Linked DNA regions of Homo sapiens: region 1 is linked to region 2. The links come from fine-mapping of genetic effects on gene expression. Tissue or cell type: whole blood. Region 2 holds a variant in brackets; the other region holds the start of a gene. All regions are shown on one strand. Distances are from middle to middle.

Region 1 (8,000 bases), 190 kb after region 2:
ATTTCTAAGGTAATACTTATTGAGTGCCTACGTGTTAGGCGTTTTACATACTTTAAGCCTCACAACTCTGGGGAAGTTTCACCAACCCATTTTACAGATGACAAAACTGTGGCTTACCAAGATTAATAAGGCCAGAATTAAAATTAGGGTCTAATTCCAAAGATATTACCACTATACATACCAAGATGTCTTGTTACTACATTTTATCCTTACATTTGGCAGTGAGGGGAAAACTCAAAAAGCAGTCAAAAAACTTTTGTCCTGAACCAACATAAAAAGAGCACCTAAGACTTCATCCAGTATTTTACCGAAAGATCACTTCTAAAAGTTTGTCTTCACCCCGATCTAAAAATTAGAAAACTAATTTTCTTTCAGCAGCTGCATATGTACATAATGTAATGTTTCTACATTTAGACCTACACAATTATAAGTCTAAACAAAATATGTGTAACATGATTGGAGAACATAACTAGCAGTCATTTAAGAAAATGGACATTTGGAAACATCATTTCAAGAGCTTGGGATGAAAAATTTTGCTATGACCTATAAATCTGGATCATTCCACTGACTGACACTGAGAGAAACAGTGTATTATCACAGTTTACACAGTAAATTTTTTTGGAGGGGAGAGGGAGGAGATTGAAATAGAAATGATCGAAATAGAAATTATCTAAAGTTTAAGAAATACAACTGATTAAATGTTACATGTCAAAGACACTGTAGGTACCCAATAAATCCTGTTAAATGGACTGCACAAGTGGGATGAGAACACGTTTTCCCCACACCTCTGACTAGTATGTACCTTTCTTAGGAAGTTATTTTTTCAGCCATGGGAAAAAAAAGGGCAGAATTTAGGACAGATAAAACATAAGTAGCTTATAAATCCTCTGAAAGGAAATCAAAACACAGTATTTTGTATCTCTGTATAAAGTTAAGCTCCTCAGGGACAGGGGCAATGTCCAGAGGATAGTGAGCATACTACTTAGCAAACTAATGCAGGTTAATAAATATTGACACAGTAAGACTAGCATAGTTTACATTCTAATTTTGTAAAGATTATAAGTTACCTCTTCATATTCTGTTCTTTTATTTCTCCTGTGTATATTATAAATACACAAAGATTGAAAATTATTTCTTGAAGCTATTTCCTTTTTTATTTTTTGGTCAACTGTATTAGTGTTTCTTAAAAGGGCTTCTGGTCATCCTTAGGGCTTATCAGTAGCATCATTAATAATGTATTCATTTCACTAAAAATGTGGTAAGTAGCTTGGATTTAAAAACAGGATCTAATTTCAAAGCTATTTCCACTATACACACCAAGTTACAACTTTCTTATCTCTCCTAAATTCTAAATTTTACATGATTTACCAAATCACTTCTTAAGTAAGAGTACTTATTGATCAGAAGTGTGAGACAAACACCTTATCCCACTTGTCCAATTTATTCAACAAGATTGATTGGGTACCTTTGTGTCTCTGACAGGTAACTTTCAACAGTTGTATTTCTTAAACTTTAGGTCGTCTCCCAAAAAAAACTGTAATAATTTGCTGCTTCTCTCAATATTGCAGGCAGTAAAATGATCCAAAATTACGGGTCATATCCACATTTCTTCATGATTGAGGTTAACTGTGCACTGTAAACCCCATATGCTATTAGTTTACATTTTCAACAGCACCCTCGCCACTTAATAATCTCAAACAGATTTTGGACTGTTACTAATTTAGCATATCCATAAAAAGTCATTTAAAAAATGTAGACGCTAAATTCTCTTTCAAGGTTGCCAAGCTTCACCAGTGTCTGTATTAAAATTATTTCTAAAATTTTACGGACTAAGGCATTTGGTACATTCAATTCTACCTTTACCAACAAAAGCCTTTACCACCAAGATGAGGAAAGCATCCTTTTCATTTTCTACACTGAAAAGGGGGGGGAAAAAAGGCCAACTGCTTGCATACAGGTCTGCATATAACACAGCAGTCTCTGGCAAAGCCAATAACTCACGTTCAACTTCAGAAATCCTGGTGGCCGGTAACACAGAGTAACCTGTGCGCACAACCCTTGGGCTTGACATACCACTTCATCCGCCCTCCCTTCCCATCAATCCACCCCCAAAACCCCAACCCACCAAGCACACGGCTAAATATGTCTTCCCCAAGAGAGCCAAAAACCTTGAAAACGCCGAGAAAGGGCTCCCCTTTGAAGGAAAGGGCCTGCCCTTCCCTGTCTGGGGCCCCGGCTGGCTCGAAGAGCCTGGCTCCTAGGAGGCCCAAATCTCGACGCCTCGCACGTCCCGCCCCGCCCCGGGCCCGCTCGCGTCCCCTCGGGCGACAAAACCCTCCCGCCGTCGCTCAGCCAGGACTGACAGTTACGGCTGCAGCAGCCGCGGCCACCAGGGGCCTACTTCTGGCACCAGCCCCTTCGGACCACGCGCCCCCAAACACTCGCCTCGGCGGCGGGGGGCGGGGAAGGGGGGTGTCGACCTCGCCACAGCGGGCCCCGAAGGCCGGCCGAGTGACGGAGGGGAGCCAGCGCCGCCTGGCGCAGGCCGCGGCAACACTGACCTGTCGTCGCCCCCGCGCCTGGGCTGCGGCGGCCGCCTCACTGGTCGTAGTCGCCCTCGCCCGCCGCCTCCGCCCGCCACCGCCTCGTTCTCTTTCGCTGCCGCCACCGCCGGGGCTCATGCGGGACCCGCGCTTCCTTATCCGGAAAACGAGGCCGGGAAAGGGAGCGCCGGGGCCGCCGAAATCCCGGCGTTCGTCGCCAGCCGCCGCTGCCTGTCCACACCGGGGGGCTGAGGGGCCCTCCTGCCAGGGGCTACAGGCCGCGAGCTATTCCGAGGAGGAGCCGAAGGAGGCGCCGCCGCCCGCAGCCGAGCGCGCCGGGTCGGCAGAGGTGAAGCGTAAGTAGGCGGCGGATGGCGGGCGCCCGCGCTGGCGGATGGCTACGCGGCGGAGGGGTGCGCGAGCGAGCGAAGCCTGGTGTGTCGGGTCCTGGCGAAGGGAAAAGGCCCCGTCGTCTCCTGTAGTCACCCCGAGCCCAGCGCCACCATCTTGGGAGACACACGGATCTCGCGGCCGCGGCGCAAGACGGGAGGACTGGCTGGGCGGGCCGAGTATCCCGGCAGGCAGCGCGCGCCGCCCGGCCGGGCGAGGGCTCCAGGCCGGGACGCGGGGACGTGGGGCGGGGCCAAGACGCGCGGGAGGGCGCCGCGCTCCGCCCCTCCTTCCTTCGCCGGCCCCGCCTCCCTCCCGCTTGCCGTCGCCGCCGGCGCACGGGCCATTGGGAAGAGGAGGTGGCCTGCGGCCCCTCGGAGTCCCACCAGGCTCGGTCGCCATCTTGCGACTGGACAGAAAGGGTAATCCCTCTTTTTAGTTTCTGCTGTCTGTGACCCGAAAGAATAAACCTGGGACTTCCGGAAGCCCTCTGGGCACCCCCCCCCCCAGGAGGGTTGCAGAGCCCCTTGGTGTACCCAGCAGAGGAACGCCTCAGACTTTGTTGGGAAACGAATGGCTCTGAAAGTTAGCTGAAGCCGCTGGAATAGCCCCCCAGCCCCGAGGCGGGGCAGGTGCCTGCCGTTATTGGCTTTTCGACCCCAACCCTTTTCTATCTGGAGCTGCCTTTGTAGATGTTGCAGGGGTGCCCCGAGAGTGCAGGCCAGATTTTAGAGGACCAAGGTCATCTACTTAGGCCTCTTGCCAACACAGGATGTGTCAACTAGTTTACCAGAGACGAAGGTAAAGTCCCGTCTCCTGCAGTTGTTGACGTTCAGTAGGTCGTCGGTTAAGAAAAGTGGCTCCCTGGTTGACCCCAGCTGGATAGAGGCTAATTTTGATCCATATGACAGCTGAACGTAGTTAAAGCCATTAAAATTAAATCCATTTAAAGTCATATTTGGTACCAGGGTCACCATTTTAAAAGGTGTGTGTGTGTATGTGTGTGTGTGTGTGTGTGTGTGTGTATAGCTTTACAACACTTGCTAGCAAAGCCAAAAGAGTATCACTAACAATTCATAGTGTTACAACTTGCAACTTTGTTGATAAGCCCTTGAAGTACTAGATGAGTACCCATGTCTAGTATTCAGATTTTTTATATCAACAGTCGTACATAGCAGTGTATCTTTTTTAAATTTATTTTTATTTTTAAACTTAGAAATGGTGTCTTGCTATGTTAGGCCCAGGCTGGTCTCGAGCTCCTGGCCTCAAGTGATCCTCCCACCTCGGCCTCCCAAAGTTTTGGGACTACAGGCATGAGCCACAGTGCTCGGCCAGCAGTGTAATTTTTAACTGTCAGTCTCGGAACATCTTTTTTGTATAGCCAAGTGTGTGGGTGTGTGTGTGTATCCGCCTCACAACTATAACCAACCATTGAAAAACCAACAATAAGCTAGAAGAATTTAAGTTATTCCAGGACAACTGATGATAATGATAGTATTAAGCCATATTCGATTTTAAGATGTTTTAACTCAGCTCTTTACTCACTTTTCATTTCCTCTCATTACACATCCACATTTGGAAACTATTTGCTGTTATATTTCATGGAAAGGACTAGTAAGAATTATAATCTTTAAAAAAATTTATCTTCGCAAGTTTTCAAAATAGGCAACAAAGAATGTAAATCTTTAAGGACTTTATTGTTGGACTAATTAAAGCATACCATTTCTACTATATCTAGCATATGGAGATACTTATAGGTATTCTTCCTTTTAAGTAGAAATTGACAATAAATTAAGTGTAATTTTATAATGGCCTGGTGTATCAAAGTGTGGCGGAAATCCCTGAGTTCCAAAAAGATTAAAGACCGAAGGGAAATAAGTCTGCTTTTAGCTAGATGTCAGAATGACTATTCATTGCTTTACTGAGATCAAGGAGGATCTTAATTCCTCCTGGAGAAATTACGTATATCCGTTTTAGTTCATTAATTTTAAATCTGTATTCTTATGTGTGACATTAGTATTAGAATTCTTTCAAGATTTCACTGTGCTTTTTGTTTTATCCATTTTCAAATTTAGAAATGTTTGCTCATCAAACTTACCAACATAAATACTTTCAGGAATCCTTAAGATACTAGCAGTGTTCCACTTCCCTATACACCTGTTTATATGAAAAATAAAAAAATTCTCCCATATCAGACCCATGTGTTTTTTTTTTTTTAGGTGTGTTTTTCCCAGAAAAACAACTTTGTATCTACTAAGTGAACAGTGATTTCTTCAGACTTTTCTAGTCCAAATGAGACCCAGTAGTTTCTAATAATTTTCTCATTTCAGGTATACAGTAAAAAGAGCAATTTAATTTTATAAGCATCTGCATCAATGCCTTGAGCAAACTTTGAGCTAATGTTTACCCAGAACTATTTATGTGTCATATGTTGGACTACTTGAACTACTATTTATGTGCCAGACCTTGGGAAACAATAAAAGATGAACAATCTCTATCCCTGCCCTCAAGAACTTGCAGTTCCAGAGGAAGTCACACCTGTAAGATTGGACACTTTTTCAGAGTAACCCAACACTTCATTGAGCATGGGGGGTACCTAGTAATATGTATCTGCTAATACTAACAAACTTTTTATTTTATTATTATTATTATTTTTTTGAGACAGAGTCTTGCTCCGTCGCCCATGCTGGAGTGCAGTGGCGCAATCTTGGCTCATTGCAAGCTCCACCTCCCAGGTTCATGCCATTCTCCTGCCTCAGCCTCCCAAGTAGCTGGGACTACAGGCACCCGCCACCACGCCTGGCTAATTTTTTGTATTTTTAGTAGAGACGGGGTTTCACCGTGTTAGCCAGGATGGGCTCGATCTCCTGACCTCGTGATCCGCCCGCCTCGGCCTCCCAAAGTGCTGGGATTACAGGCATGATCCACCATGCCCAGCCAACAAACTTTTTTTTAAAGGAAACATTTTGCCCTAAATTGCTGGTGAAGTTGTTTTTTGACAGAGCTGTTTTATTGCTGAAGATTTCTTATTGATGCCAGTCATAACAGATGAATCAAAATGCAAGAACAACTTTTTTTACTACTCAGCATGCCCCAGGATCAGAAATAAGTCGAGCATGGAAGAGACAAAATTCAGATATGGTGGGATAGAAGTCACGGTTGCTATTTTTAGGCCACATCCAAATGTTACACACTCAACTTCTGAAAAACACTAAGCTTTCAATATATGAATAGCTCCCATTATTTAAGAAATACTGTTAAGCAAACTTAGCTCCATGAAGAACACTGGCATATGATAAGTGCTCAGTAAATGTTAGTGCTTAGTAGTGGTAGTAGTAGTAGTATATGTATCATTGTTTAGTACTGCACACATCAGGCATGAACTCCTACATACCCCCACCCTTATGCCTGCAGACCTGTCTAAATTTGCATTCTTTCTGACCTCGAGTCTTAAGGTAGAAGCCATCCTTCTGTCCTTTCTACAGGTAATTTTTATTTCTTGAGGGAAGAGAGATTGACTCAAGACTCTTACTCCCTTAAATATTCCCACTCCTGTTCATAAATTCTCCCTCTACTTTGTCCCTTCTATTTAGAAAAGCTGTCTATACTTAGATTGCTATTACCTTCCAAATTCCTCTTCAACTACAGAAATTTAGCAGCTCCCTCCATTTTACTGTATACATTGCTTGTATCAATTTCACTGTGGCATAATGGCCAAATTGAAAGGTTGCTTCTCAGTTTTCATAACATCTGATCTCTCTGCAGCCTTCCACACTGCTGACCACTGCCTCCTGGAAACTGCTCCCTTGGTTCTGTCACCTTACATTCTCTGCTCTTCTGCCTTGTCTTAGGCCACTCTTTCTCAGGTCTCCTGTGCAGAATCCTCCCTCCCCATTCTTGGTTCTCTGCCTACCATGTTATAATCTTTGACAGTACCATTTACGTATACTCTTCTATCACTTATTTCAGTCAGGAATCAAGTCTGAATCTTGAACACAGATCTCAGTCAGAAGCATCAGACACAGTATCTTCAACCCCTTATTGGAAACCTGTACTGGGTGTTCTACAGGCACCTCAAGCTCAACATGATTAACATCAAACCCCTGAGTTTGTTCTGTCTTCCACCATGGACTGAGATGTGATAACAGTGCAAAGGAGCAGGTTTTGGGAGAACAAGCAGGAATTTAGTTTTGGTAATGTTAAATTTGAGATACCTGTTGGATATCTGTTGTACAAACTGCTTCCTAGCTGACTCTTATGCATTCTGCTCTTTATCCATGATAATAGAACATCTAGCCAGACACATGGTTGCCTATAATACACCCTTAAGTGTGGCCATATCTCTTAAGTTCTGGCCAGTAGGATGTGAGCAGAAATTATGTATGCAACTTCCAGATCATTTTCTAAAAGAAATTGGGTGTCACTTGCCCTTTCTTTTGTCCTTTTCTGATGAATGTATGTATTAAATAGTTGGGGTAGTAAACCATGTTGAAAGATGCTGTGGTTTCAATGATGGTGTCCCCTTCAAAATTCATGTTGAAACTTAATCCCCATTGTGATGATACTAACAGCTGATGAAATCATGAGGGCCCTGCCTCATGGATGGATTAATACCTTGTAAAAGGACTGGAGGGAACTAGCTTAGGCCTTCTTTTGCCCTTCCATCCCTTTAGCCACACGAGGACACAGCATTCACCCCCTCCAGAGGATATAGCAGTAAGGTCCCACCTTGGAAACTGCAGCCCTCACCAGACACTAAACCTGCTGGGGGTCTTGAGCTTGTACTTCCCAGCCTTTAGAACTGTGAAAAAGTATATTTCTGTTCTTCACAAATTTCCCAGTTTCAGGTATTTTGTTACAGCAGCATAAACAAGACTAAGACACTGGGAAACATTCTAGGGATTGCAGAGCAACAAGTTGGGGCCCTGAGGACTTCATTGGGCAGGTCCTGTGTACCAGGTCAACTCTGATGTAAGACAGCTACTAACTTCTATGATCTGCCATGGTTATTCTAAATCCCTTTAACTGCAGCTGACCTTGTGTCTTAATATCCAAGCAAAGATATCA
Region 2 (8,000 bases):
TGGCTCTCATCACATGTGTCCGTGGAAGATAAGCAAGTGTGAACTGGCACGTCCTACCTCCTTCCCTACATGGAGGTAACTTTGGACACATGTTCTCCACCTCTCTCCCAGATGGTGAGACCGGAGGAAGACTTGCATTGGGCCTGTTGTTCCTGGGCCAGTGGCCATCAGCCTGTTGCCCAGCCCCTGATGCGCTGAAGCTCGGGCCCTTCCTCGCGCCCTGGTCTCCTGCACTGAGCTGTGGTGAGCACATCCGGGTCCTGCTGGATGCATGCACGAGGTGATTGATCCCCTCAGTTGGGTCGATGATGAGAACCTTATATTGTTCTGAAGAGAGGTGATGACTTAAAAATCATGCTCAATAGGATTACGCTGAGGCCCAGCCTAGGTGAGAATTTTGGAAGAGGATGCTGGGATCCCGAGATCCCTGGCAGGGCCACTATATTTTGGGCTGGAGAACTTGAGGCCCTGAAGGGCATCTCAGGGGGGTCCAACCCTATCTCTGTGCCCCTCCATGAGGCAGCCCAGGCTCCCTGTGTGGGCATGGTGTCCGGGCTCTGGTTCCCTGGGGGTGGGGCATGTTGGTGGCTCCTTCCTGAGCCTGCTTTCTCCCCCATGTCTTTCAGTGAGCTCTTCTGCCCAGGTGAGGCCCATGGCCTTAAGCGGCATAGGTGAGTGTATCCTGTTGGGGTCATGGGCCATGAATGAGGCAGCATGGGGCCATTTATGGTCAGCCTTCGGGCCACTAGGGTTTTCTCAGGGTGCGACCGGGGAGGGAATGTTTCTCCAGTAGGGTCACTTCCTTGGGAATCTGACCCTAGGAGCATGCATTTCGTGAAGCCCTGCAAAGGTGATGGTGGTCCCGGCAGGAAAGGGTTCCTTCAGCCCAACATAGAGCAGCTCCCAGCTGAAACTCAGCGGGCTGGTCAGGCCTCGAGGACTGCCCAGGCCACATGAGGTGGGCAACAGGGGCTCTGGGGCAACCTGGGGGTCACGCTGGAGTTCTCCCTCTCTGGACAGTGGTGGGTGATTGGGCCCACGCAGACAGGCCCCGGAGATTCAGGACTGCACCCCATCCATGGCCCTGAATGGGACCGACCCTGTTGAGTAATGGGCCATCTCAGTGGTACCTCCTTGAGCCTGGTAGGGGGAGGCACTGTTTCAATGCAGTTGAATCAAGGCTGAGCTCTGGCTGGTGCCTGGTGGTGCTGCAGGCAGCCCTGGGGGTTGTGGTCTTTGGGACAAGGGGCCAGCTCACGTCCCTCTGGGGTCTCCCCTTCCTTGAGATTCAGTGGCCGAAAGGATGTCCTCCTGAGGTGGGAAGTCCTGCTGTCGAGGGACCTGTTCTGGGAATTTGCCACACAGGCTGCTTCTGAGCCACGGGGTCACCTCCAGGGTGGTAGGGTCTTGATCCCAAGGAAAGGAGAGGACACCATGTGGTTTCTTATTGACCAAGTGGGACCTGGCTCTGTGTGTGGGAGGTGTAGGGCAAGATGAGGACCCACCAGAGAAAGTACGTGGCCCTGGAGGCCCCCAGGCTTTGATTTCTGGTGTGTGCTTGGAGAGGGCACCAGGGTGGGCACCCACCATGCCCAGGGTAGGCTCTGCAATGGCCAGGTCTGCATTGGCTCCTGGTGTTAGGGCCAGACTCGCTGGTTGGCCATGAGCAGGTTGGTTGCCCTCACCCGTCCCCATAGTCCCAGTGCGGCCCTGGGGTTGTTCGGGGGAGCCGGCCCGAGCAGTGGAGGTGCTGTTGGGGCCTGCAGTAGGGCATCTTGCCCCAGCCCAGTGACCCACCTTCCCTGTCTTTCCAAGGTTTGGTGGCCAGCAGGGCCAATGGTGCCCTGTGTCTGTGATGAGTCAGTGTTCTTCATGGATTCCATCACATGGGTATCCCCTACCCACATTCCCCTCGCTCATATGTGAGGCCCTGGTTGGACACATGTCCTTCTCCTGTCACCACCCCAGATGGTGAGCCTGGAGGAAGACTTGTATTGGGACCCTACAGGCCCCAGGCCAGTGTCTGTCAGCCTGGTGCTCATCCCCCAGTGCGCTGAAGCTCAGACCCTCCCTGGCACCCTGGTCTCCTGCACTGAGCTGTGGTGAGCACATCCAGGTTCTGCTGGATGCATGCATGGGGAGGGCCTTGATTGGGTCAATGATGAGAACCTTATATTGTCCTGAAGAGAGGTGATGACTTAAAAATCATGCTCAATAGGATTACGCTGAGGCCCAGGCTAGGTGAGAATTTTGGAAGGGAGCGCTGGGATGCCAAGATCCCCGGCAGGGCCACTAGCCACTGTATTTTATACTGAAGAACTTGAGGCCCCAAAGGGCATCTCAGGGGTCCTAGCCCTGTCTCTGTGCCCCTCCGTGAGGCAGCCCAGGCTCCCTGTGTTGACTTGGTGTCCAGGCTCTGCTTCCTGGGGATAGGGCATGTTGGCAGCTCCTTCCTGAGCCCACGTTCTCCCCTGTGTCTTCTATTGAGCTCTTCTGCCCAGGTGGGGCCCATGCCCTTAAGCAGTATAGGTGAGTGTATCCTGTTGCGGTCATGGGCCATAAATGAGGCAGTGTGGGGTCATCGAGGGTCAGCCTTCAGGCCACTAGCGTTTTCTCCAGGTGCCCCCGGGGAGGGAACATTGCTCCAGTAGGGTCACTTCCTTGGGAATCTGACCCTAGGAGCACGCATTTCCTGAAGCCCTGCAAAGGTGATGGTGGTCCAGGCAGGAAAGCGTTCCTTCAGCCCAACATACAGCAGCTCCCAGCTGAAATTTGGTGGGCTCGTCAGGCCTTGAGGACTGCCCAGGCTTCATGATGGGGGACACAGAAGCTCTGGGGCTCCCTGGGGCTCACACTGGAGTTCTCCCTCCCTGAAGAGTGGTGGGTGATTGGGCCCACAGTCAGGTGGCGGAGATTCAAGGAATGCCCCCACCCCTGGCCCTGAATGGGACCAACTCTGTTGAGTAATGGGCCATCTTAATGGCGCCTCCTTGAGCCTGTTGGGGGTGGGTTGCTGTTTCAATAAGGTTGAGTCAAAGCTGAGCTCTGACTGGGCGCCTGGTGGTACTGCAGGCCGGCCCTTCCTTGGGCCAAGGGGGCAGCTTGTGTCCCGCTGGTGTCATCCCTTCCTTGAGGTCCAGTGGTGGAAAGGGTAGCCTCCTATGGTGGGAAGGCCTGCTGCTCAGGGACCTGTCCTGGAAATTTGCCATCCAGGCTGCTTCTGAGCCATGGGGTCACCTCCAGGGTAGTGGGGTCTTGAGTCCAAGAAAAGGAGAGGACACCATGTGGTTCCTGATTGGCCAAGGCTCCTTGGTTGGCCAGGAGCAGGTTGGTTGCCCTGGCCCATGCCCCATGGTCCTGGTGTGGCCCTGGGGTTGTTCAGGGGAGCTGGCCCAGGCCGTGAAGGTGCTCTCAGGGCCTGCAGTAGAGTGCAGCCCAGGCATCTTGCCCCAGCCCAGTGACCCACTTACCCTGTCTTTCTAAGGTTTGGTGGCCAGGAGGGCCAATGGTGCCTTGTGCCCATGTTGGGTCAGTGTTCTGCATGGATCCCCATCATATGGGTATTCCCTACCCACCCTCCCTGCACTGATATGTGAGGCCCTGGTTGGACACATGTCCTCCTCCTGTCCCTTCAGATGGTGAGTCTGGAGGAAGACTTGTGTTGGACCCCCACAGGCCCCAGGCCAGTGTCCATCAGCCTGGTGCTAATCCCCCAGTGCTCTGGAGTTTGGACCCTCCCTGGCACCCTGGTCTCCTGCACTGAGCTGTGGTGAGCACATGGATGCATGCTTGGGGTGGGGGTTGCCCTTGGTTGGGTCAATGATGAGAACCTTATATTGTCCTGAAGAGCGGTGATGACTTAAAAATCATGCTCAATAGGATTACGCTGAGGCCCAGCCTAGGTGAGAATTTTGGAAGAGGACACTGGGCTCCCCGGAATGGCCACTGTATTTTGCGCTGGACACCTGCAGGCCCTGAGGGCCATCTGGAAGGTCCAACCCTGTCTCTCTGCTCCTCCAGGAGGCAGCCCAGGCTCCCTGAGGGGGCTTGGTGTCGGGCTCCTGTTCCCCGGGGTTGGGGCCGGTTGGTGGCTCCTTCCTGAGCCCCCATTCTCCCCTTGTGTCTTTCAGTGAGCTCTTCCACC[C/T]GGGCGGGCCCCCGGCATTGACTGGCATAGGTGAGTGGATCCTGCTTGTGTCATGGGCCATGAACCGGTCCATGTGGGGTCACCAAGGGTCAGCCTTTGGGATAAGAGGGTTTCCTCAGGGAACCAACCTGAATTCCCATCAGAGAGGTATGGGTTCTCCAGGAGGGCCGCTTTTTTGGGAATTGGACCCAAGGAGGATAACTTCCCTGATCTCTGCAGGAGTGACGGTGGTCCAGGCAGGAAAGAGTTCCTTCAGCCCCACCCAGCGCAGCGTTCTGTTGAGACTCAGTGCTCAGGTCAGGCCTGGAGGATTTCTCAGGCCATCTGAGGGGGTTAGAGGGGAGCTCTTTGTCCATGGAGTGTGGTGCTTGAATCTGCCCTTGGGGTTGGGTCATGGAGATTCAAGGATGGTGCCTCACCCATGGCCCTGATTGGAATTGTCCATTGAGAAATACGCCATTCCAGTGGGCCTCCTGGAGCCTGATGGGGGGTGGTGTTTTTTTCCCTGGGGTTGAGTCGTTGATGGGGACTCACCATAGAAAGCATGTGGCTCTGGAGGCCCCCAGGCTTTGATTTCCAGTGCCTGCTTGGAGTGGGCACCAGGGCCGGCACCCACCATGCCCAAGGGCAGGCTCTGCGACTGCCAGGTCTGCATTGGCTCCTGGCATCAGGACCAGCCTCCTTGGTTGGCCATCAGCTGCTTGGTTGCCCTGGCCCATGCCCCGTGGTCCTGGTGTGGCCCTGGGGTGGTTGAGTGGAGCTGGCCCAGGCAGTGGAGGTGCTCTTGGGGCCTGCAGTAGGGTGCAGCCCAGGCATCTTGCCTGATCCCAGTGACCTGCTTGCCCTGTCTTTCCAGGATTTTGTGGCAGGGAGGGCCAAGGGTGCCCTGCATCCGTGATGGGTCAGTGTTCCACGTGGATCCCATTACGTGGGTCCATAGAGGATGAGCATGCGTGAGCCAGCGCCCCCTTCCCACTTCTTCTCATGGAGCTGTGAGGCCCTGTGTGGACAGCTGTCTTCCTCTTGTCCCACCAGGTGGTGAGCCCGGAGGAGGACTTGCGTTCGGCCCGCTGGTCCCAGTGTGTCCGGAATTGGTGGGTTCTTGGTCTCACTGACTTCAAGAATGAAGCTGCGGACCCTCGCTGTGAGTGTTACAGCTCTTAAGGTGGCATGTCTGGAGTTTGTTCCTTCTGATGTTCGGATGTGTTCGGAGTTTCTTCCTTCTGGTGGGTTTGTGGTCTCGCTGGCTTCAGGAGTGAAGCTGCAGACCTTCGCGGTGAGTGTTACAGCTCATAAAAGCAGTGTGGACCCAAAGAGTGAGCAGTAGCAAGATTTATTGCAAAGAGTGAAAGAACAAAGCTTCCACAGTTTGGAAGGGGACCCAAGTGGGTTGCCACTGCTGGCTGGGGCAGCCTGCTTTTATTCTCTTATCTGGCCCCACACACATCCTGCTGATTGGTAGAGCTGAGTGATCTGTTTTGACAGGGCGCTGATTGGTGCGTTTACAATCCCTGAGCTAGACACAAAGGTTCTCCATGTCCCCACTAGATTAGCTAGATACAGAGTGTTGACACAAAGGTTCTCCAAGTCCCCACCGGAGTAGCTAGATACAGAGTGTCTATTGGTGCATTCACAAACCCTGAGCTTGACACAGAGTGCTGATTGGTGTGTTTGCAAACCTTGAGCCAGATACAGAGCGCGGATTGGTGTATTTACAGTCCCTGAGCTAGACATAAAGGTTCTCCAAGGCCCCACCAGAGAAGCTAGATACAGAGTGTCGATTGGTGCATTCACAAACCCTGAGCTAGACACAGGGTGCTGATTGGTGTGTTTACAAACCTTGAGCTAGATACAGAGTGCCGATTGGTGTATTTACAATCCCTGAGCTAGACATAAAGGTTCTCCAAGGCCCCACCAGACTCAGGAGCCCAGCTGTCTTCACCCAGTGGATCCCGCACTGGGGCTGCAGGTGGAGCTGCCTGCCAGTCCTGCGCCATGCGCCCGCACTCCTCAGCCCTTGTGTGGTTGATGGGACTGGGCACCGTGGAGCAGGGGGCGGCACTCGTCGGGGAGGCTCTGGCTGCACAGGAGCCCATGGAGGGGGTGGGAGGCTCAGGCATGGCAGGCTGCAGGTCCCGAGCCCTGCCCCGAGGGAAGGCAGCTAAGGCCCGGTGAGAAATCAAGTGCAGCGCCGGTGGGCTGGCACTGCTGGGGGACCCAGTATACCCTCTGCAGCTGCTGGCCCGGGTGCTAAGCCCCTCATTGCCTGGGGCCGGCAGGGCCGGCCCGCTGCTCCGAGTGTGGGGCCCGCCAAGCCCACACCCACCCGGAACTCCAGCTGGCCCACAAGCGCCCCGCGCAGCCCCGGTTCCCACTTGCGCCTCTCCCTCCACACCTCCCTGCAAGCTGAGGGAGCAGGCTCCGGCCTTGGCCAGCCCAGAAAGGGGCTCCCACAGTGCAGCAGTGGGCTGAAGGGCTCCTCAAGTGCCACCAAAGTGGGAGCCCAGGCAGAGGAGGCGCCAAGAGCAAGTGAGGGCTGTGAGGACTGCCAGCACGCTGTCACCTTTCATCAGGACAGTGTCTGTCAGCCAGGTGCACAGCCCTTGGTGTGCTGGAGCTTGGGCTTTTCTTGGCAGCCTGGTGTCCTGCATTGAGCGGTGGTGAGCTTGTCCAGGTCCCGCTGGTTACCTGCACGGTGACGGGGGTGCCCTCGGTTAGGTTGATGATGAGAACCTTATTTTGTCTCGAGGAGAGGTTATGTGATGGGTGTTGTGGCAGCTCTTTGTATTTCATTTTCTTCAGTGCTTTTTGTGTGTTCTCTTTGTATTTTTTACCGCTTTGTGTATTTTACTTTCACAAAGGCAGCAGCAAATGTTTTATTGGTGGTGGTATTTTTCATTTTTATTTACTTCCTAATTTGATAGTGTTTTAGTTGGAATACACAGTCTCATTGTAGTTGTTCAGAAATATGCTTTTTTTCTGTACATTATATGATTGTGCATAATTTTTGCCAGTTTTTTTTTTAATTGGGGACTACAGTTGAATGCACTGCCTATCTCCTACTTTACTGAAACAGATTGTATGGAAATCTAAAGACGAGAAAGTAGACAAGCACAGCAGAGGACATTTATTTTGATATAACCACAGAAATTCATTGATATGACCTTATCATATTGATGGTTTTTCAAAGAAATATAAAATCTTTCGATAATGGATTGTCTCAGTTGCGTTTCTCCTTATATCATGTTTTGCCTTCAATACAAATTGCAATGCTTAGAAATTTAAAGAACACCTTCTGAAGTGGAAGATCTAGCTAAAGAATTAGATTGGTATTGGCTGAAATGTTGCAGTAATCACATGATAGGGTTAATACAACATGAGTTACATGCTGAGTGCTCTAAGGTAGAAAGTAGGTAACAAGGAATAACAGGTAGGTAATGTAAGTCGGGAGAAGGAAACTCTAGGACAGAATCATTAGAAAAGGCTTGACGTCAACAGCAGTGTATAGAATTTACAGTGTATAGAATTTACAGTGCATAGAATTTACAATAAGTGCCTTTTTTTGTGCTCATCAATGCTCTTGCTTATATTGTAGGAGGAGTTAGTTCCCTTGAAGAAATATCAATACAAATTTCCAAATTGCAATGCAGAGGGAAAAAAGAATGAGAAAGTAAAAAATATCCAAGAACTCTGGAAGCATTTCAAAAAGTGTAAAAATGCATAGTGACAATGTCAGGAGAATAAGGAGATAAAGGAAAAGAAATATTTGACACAACAATGACTTGAGCACTTTCTAAAATTAATGATGGACAGAAACCCACATGTTCAGGAAGCTCAGAGAGCACTCTGCAGAATA

The links. PIP is the estimated chance that this variant, and not a neighbour inherited with it, causes the effect.
Region 1: UBE3A starts here. The variant in region 2 is fine-mapped to the expression of UBE3A in whole blood (INTERVAL, PIP above 0.99).

Annotation. Positions count from the first base shown.
Region 1 is chr15:25,435,928-25,443,927 of GRCh38, forward strand. It overlaps UBE3A (ubiquitin protein ligase E3A), which reads right to left and starts at 3,097. Exons shown (of 13, transcript NM_130839.5): 1 at 2,562-3,097. RefSeq lists enhancers at 2,213-3,158, 3,159-4,104 and silencers at 2,242-2,661, 3,022-3,361.
Region 2 is chr15:25,247,046-25,255,045 of GRCh38, forward strand. SNHG14 (small nucleolar RNA host gene 14) reads left to right here. Exons shown (of 148, transcript NR_146177.1): 134 at 112-243; 135 at 627-671; 136 at 1,969-2,102; 137 at 3,636-3,766; 138 at 4,131-4,174; 139 at 5,180-5,288. It overlaps SNORD115-42 (small nucleolar RNA, C/D box 115-42), which reads left to right and starts at 300; the gene lies at 300-381. SNORD115-43 (small nucleolar RNA, C/D box 115-43) reads left to right here and starts at 2,153; the gene lies at 2,153-2,234. It overlaps SNORD115-44 (small nucleolar RNA, C/D box 115-44), which reads left to right and starts at 3,814; the gene lies at 3,814-3,895. The variant C/T (reference allele first, on the strand shown) is at 4,145.